2 separate regions of the Homo sapiens genome follow, and region 1 is linked to region 2. Evidence: fine-mapped expression QTL. A gene starts in region 2. The other region holds a variant in brackets. All regions are shown on one strand. Distances are from middle to middle. Region 1 has its middle 21 kb from the start of RCN3. Region 2 holds the start of NOSIP (nitric oxide synthase interacting protein).

The links. PIP is the estimated chance that this variant, and not a neighbour inherited with it, causes the effect.
Region 1: its variant is fine-mapped to the expression of NOSIP in whole blood (INTERVAL, PIP above 0.99).

The regions. Positions count from the first base shown.
Region 1 is chr19:49,548,009-49,550,918 of GRCh38, forward strand. No RefSeq gene overlaps it. Among named protein-coding and RNA genes, the nearest start is that of RCN3, 21 kb to the left of the region's middle. The variant C/G (reference allele first, on the strand shown) is at 1,282.
Region 2 is chr19:49,579,034-49,581,943 of GRCh38, forward strand. NOSIP (nitric oxide synthase interacting protein) reads right to left here and starts at 1,523. Exons shown (of 9, transcript NM_001270960.2): 1 at 1,482-1,523. It overlaps PRRG2 (proline rich and Gla domain 2), which reads left to right and starts at 2,283. Exons shown (of 7, transcript NM_000951.3): 1 at 2,283-2,448.

The DNA.
Region 1 (2,910 bases), 31 kb before region 2:
GGGTGAGCCACCGCGCCCAGCCATTTTTTGTATTCTTAATAGAGACGGAGTTTCGCCATGTTGGCCAGGCTGGTCTCGAACTCCTGATCTCAGGTGATCCGGCTGCCTCGGCCTCCCAAGTGCTGAGATTACAGGCGTGAACCACCATGTCTTGCTAATTTTTGTATTTTTAGCAGAGAGGGGGTTTCACCATGTTGGTCAGGCTGGTCTTGAACTCCTGACCTCGAGATCTGCCCTCCTCAGCCCCCCAAAGTGCTGGGATTACAGGTGTCACCCACCGCTTCCGGCCGCGTTTTTTGGTTTGTTTGTTTTGTGTGTGTGTTTTTTGTTTTGTTTTGTTTTGTTTTTTGAGATGGAGTCTTGCTGTGTCGCCCAGGCTGGAGAGCAGCGGCTCAATCTCAGCTCACTGCAACTTCCGCCTCCTGGGTTCAAGAGATTCTCCTGCCTCAGTCTTCCTAGTAGTTGAGATTACTGGTGCCGGCCACCGTGGCTGGCTACTTTTTGCGTTTTTAGTAGAGACAGGGTTTCACCATGTTCGCCAGGCTGGTCTCGAACTCCTGACCTCAGGTGATCCACCCACCTCAGCCTCCCAAAGTGCTGGGATTACAAGTATGAGCCACCACGCCTGGCCCTGGCCTGCGTTTTTTAAGACATAATCTTGCTCTGCCACCTAGGCCAGAGTACTGTGGCACTCCAGTTGCAGAGAGCCAACATTGTGCCATTGCACTCCACTGATCTCAGCTCACTGATCTCAGCCAGCTGCAAGCGATTCTCGTGCTTCAGCCTCCCTAGTAGCTGGGATTACAGGCGTGTAACACCACGCCCAGCTAATTTTTGTATTTTTAATAGAGATGGAGTTTCACCATGTTGTCCAGGCTGGTCTCAAACTCCTAAGCTCAAGCAATCTTCCTACCCCAGTCCCACAAAGTGCTGAAATCATGGGCAGGAGCCACTGCGCCCAGCCATTCTAGCTCGTGTTTTGCTGAGCATCGTCGCATGTCTTTGGGGTACACACACAGGAGTGAGGTAGTGGAGCACCGGCTAGGCGCATTTTTAGCGTTAATCGATATTGCCAATTCATTTCCCCAGTTTACGTGCCCACCAGCGTTGTAGACAAGTTCCAGTTTCTCCACATCCTGACCAACGCTTATTAGAATAAACTTTTGAACTGTTTTTGCTTTTAGTTCTTCCGTTGGTGACCTCCCCACTTGCAGATCAGCAGATCAAATCCCCATGCTGTTGACAACACGCTGGGAGCAAAGAGCCAGGTGGAGCTTCTAA[C/G]GAAGTCAGATCTTCTGATATTTTAAAAGCTGAGATAAAATTCACAGGCCATAAAATTAACCCTTGGTCGGGCGTGGTGGCTACGCCTGTAATCCTAGCACTTCAGGAGGCCAAGGTGGGCAGATCACTTGAGGCCAGGAGTTCAAGACCAGCCTGGACAACATGACGAAACTCTATCTCTATTAAAAATACAAAAATTAGCCGGGCGTGGTGGCACATGCCTGTAATCCCAGCTACTCAGGAGGCTGGGACAAGAGAATCGATTGAACCCGGGAGGCGGAGGTTGCAGTGAGCCAAGATCGTGCCACTGCACTCCAGCCTGGGTGACAGAACCAGACTTTGTCTCAAAAAAAAAAAAAAAAAAAAAAAAAACCCACACCCCATCAGCAGTCACTATCCCCTCTCTCTCTGCACTCCCAGCCCCGGACAGCCACTAACTACTTTCTTTTGCTATGGATTTGCCTATTCTGGGCATCTCATTATAAATGCAATCGTACGTGTGACCTTTCGTGCTGGGCTTCTTTCAGCATGTTTTCCAGATCCATCCACACTGTAGCCCGTGTCAGGACGTCATTGCTTTTTTTTTTTTTTTTTTTTTTGAGATGGAGTCTCACTCTGTTGCCCAGGCTGGAGTGCAGTGGCGCGATCTCGGCTCACTGCAAGCTCCACTTCCCGGGTTCATGCCATTCTCCTGCCTCAGCCTGCCGAGTAGCTGGGACTACAGGTGCCCACCATCACACCCGGCTAATTTTTTGTATTTTTAGTAGAGATGGGGTTTCACCGTGTTAGCCAAGATGGTCTCGATCTCCTGACCTCATGATCTGCCCGTCTCGGCCTCCCGAAGTGCTGGGATTACAGGCATGAGCCACTGCGCCCGGCCCAACGTCATTCCTTTTTAGGGCTGAGTAATATTCCATGGCACGGGCTAGACCACATTTTGTCTCCACTCATCAGCTGACGGGCTTTTGGGTTGTTTCCACTTCTGGGCTATGGTGAATGGTGCTGTTAGGGTCATTCATGTGCATTTGTTTTGCCTCAGCCTCCCAAGTAGCTGGGATTAAAGGTGTCTGCCACCACGCCTGGCTAATTTTTGTATTTTTGGTAGAGATAGGGTTTCACCATGCTGGCCAGGCTGGTCTCGAACTCATGACCTCGTGATCCGCCCACCTCGGCCTCCCAGATCACGTACATATTTTTGTGTGGACCTGTTTTCAGTTTCTTGGGTAGATAACTAGGAGGGGAATTGTGAAGCTGATTTTTCCTTTTATACATGTCTCACTCTGTCACCCAGGCTGGAATACAGAGGTGGGATCACAGCTGGACCTCCTGGGCTCACACCATCTTCTGGCTTCGGTCTCCCATGCAGCTGGGACTACAGGTGGGCACCACCATGCCCAGCTAATGTATTCTTTTTTGTAGAGATGGGGTCTTGCTACAATGGCCAGGCTGGTCGCCAACTCCTGGGTTCAAGCAATCCTCCTGACTCGGCCTCCCAAAGTGTTGGGATTACAGGCGTGAACCACCTTGCTTGGGCTGATTTTTTTTTTTTAGATGGAGTCTCGCTCTGTCTCCAGGCTGCAATGCAGTGGCACGATCTCAGCTCACTGCAACCTCCACCTCCCAGGTTCA
Region 2 (2,910 bases):
TTAGTTTCTTCAATGAATCGATTACACCAAGAAATAACCAAAGTGGAGTGGAAGGGGGAACAGTTCTAAATTAAGAGAGATGTAAAAGACGATAGCAATTACTTAACTATATCCTGATTCCAACAAACCCACAGTTACACTGGACTTGACTCTGCACCACGTAATGGATAGTAGTCTAGAATTACGGTTGTTCTTTTAAAGTGTGATGATGGTATTGTGGTCATATCAGCAATGTTTCTGGTTTTTACACACGCACCCTGTTAGATAAAATTTATAGAAGGTCATTGGTTTGGATTGAGCTCCTGCACTAGGTTCAACAGACCAAACCAAAATGGAGACACTCATGCTAAAGTTCCATGCTTCCAAGCCAAAACTAAGTTGATATCTGATCTTCTGAGATATCAGGAGAGAGATAATAGCCAAATCCCCAAACAACCCAGTTTTAGCCCACCTGATAAAGGAAGTCCCCTCTACTTTAACCTTTAACTTAGAAATTTAATCAAGTTAATCAATTTAATCAACTAGCTTTTTGTTTTCCGTTTCTGATTTTCTCAGCCCTTTGTCTCTGAAAACAACCTCTGCTCAGCTCATCGGAACACTCACGCTATTTTCCATAATTAGATGTTGTTTGATTGTAGATTCACGAATAAATGCCAATTAAGATCTTCTCACTAAATGTGTTGCAATTTTGTCTTTTGACAATCCTTAAGTGTCATGATGCCTACGATTTGTTTTAATCTCTTTAAGTTTAAAAAAATACAGCAAGTATGGCAAAAATAATCATTGGTGATTTGGGTGACAGGAATTCCTGTATTCTTCTCTCACTTTTATATAAGTTTGAACATTTTCGTAAGAAAACATTAACATCAAACTGCCTCAAGGACCGTTCAAGCCCCAAGTTCACAGAATTAGCAGCACAATCAGAATGGGAATCCATGACTGCCTGACCCCGAAGCTCCACACAAGAAAACGTGAATCCCTGCACCAACCCCGAAAGGGAAGGGGCTGTCAAAAAGGTGAAGAGAAGGTGGCGATGGATGACTGCACAATCTAGTATCGCCCGCCGTCCCACCACAGTCTGAGAAACTGAGGCCAGGAAAGGAGTTCTCCCTCCTCAACTCCCACTCCTTAGACCCCCAGCAATCCCAGTCCACTCCTTCCCTTGGGACCACCAGCAAATAGCCATCATCTACAGCAGAACTGTAACTCTCAGGAGAACTGGCCGATGCTAGCTACCACTTGACTGAGTTTATAGTGAGAGAGAGAGACAAAGAGAGAGAGAACTGCCCGATGGACGGTTGGCCACCTCCAGCAGAGTGTAGTTCAGCTTCAAACTTGGGGCGCCCGGACAGCTGTATTAATAATGATTGACAGGGAATCGGGAATCCAAAATCTTGCCCCAGTCTCCCTCAAGACCCCAGGCCTCTAGCCCGCAGGAAAGCGATCCCAGCAACACTCTTCCTGCACCGCCTCGAACTCACCTCACTAACGACTCCCAGTCCCTCGGTCGCTTCTTCAACTGTGCCCCGACACCGGAAAGGAGCACTATTTTCCCCCTCCGCTCCGCCCACTTCCGCCCAGCAGAAGGCACCGGAAGTAGAGCTGCCCCTAGTTGCGGAAGTGCCTCGCCTGGCTTGCTCAAGTCCTCTCTTCTCTTTCTCTCTCCGGAAACGTGAGTAGCTAATCGAAAGTTCCGGATATTGAAACTGGTGGGAATATGGGGAACGCTTACTATGTACGAGGCATTTCCCAGGGAGATCGTTTTTTCCTGCTTGGTTCCCAGGTTTTGAGTCTCTCCAAGCCCAAATTTAAGGACTAATCACTTCCCCTAGAGATCGGGAAGCCCACTTTCCCAAATATATCATCCACTTTTCTTGCTGCATCTTAAAACAATTGAGAAGAGACAACTACGCTCCCATTTTACAGACAGAGCCATTGGGAAATTGAAAATCAAAGCCGTTCAAGTCGCTCTCAGGAAACAGGGATTTACTGCGGCACTGCCCAGCTGTCCCAGGGACTAAGGCATATCGTTCCCGCTAGTTTCTAGATACCTAGAGACCTAGATATTAATTTTTCTAGCTCGGACAGACGAACTCCCAGGGGAGAGCCAGAGCGGGTAGGGGTCGGGAGGGAGGAGGAGGGTCGAATCTAATCCCCCAGGTATCCCATGGTATTCGACACCTTGGCTTCCTCATGGAGCTCTGGCCTTTAAGTCCTTTATCCCAAGGTCCCTTTAAATACTTTGTCCCTTACCTGAGTCCCGCCCAGGGCAGGTAATGGCAAGTTCCGCCCACCTGCCAGAAACGGGGATCAGGCCTGGTTACCGGGAGTGGGGCGCCCCTCCTCCTTATCCCCTCCCCTCTTCCCTGTCCCCTTTCACAGCTGGCTGTAGCTGGCCAAGGAGTTCTCGATTAAAGAGGAAGGGGCAGTGCTCACATTTCTGGGCAGGTAAGTGAATGTCCCTGGAGGAAGAGCCTGGCTTGGGGACCCAGGCATCCTGGCTCCCCGCCCCTCCGAGACCCAGAAGTTTGGGGCTCCTAGGCCCAGGAGTCCAGGGCCCCTGCCCACTTAGGTCCCTAGACCCAATAATATAACTAATCCCCTGCCTCTGCCTCTCTCGTAATCTTTGTTGTCTGTGGGTGGATGTGACAATGAGCACAGAAAGAGGCACAAGTGGAAATTACCAGGAAGGGAAGACTCCAGATCACCAGTGGACATGTTTATAAGCATCTGTGTCAGGTGCTGTAGACACAGTGGGGAAAGAAAGATAAGCTGCCTGCTCCTTGCTTTCTTCTCTGGCGGACACTGCCTTCACTGAAATCCTGGCTCTCACACTTGCACACTGTGTGACCTTCGGCAAGCTATATTACCTCTCTGTGCCTCAGTTTCCTGTTCTCTATACTGGGGATA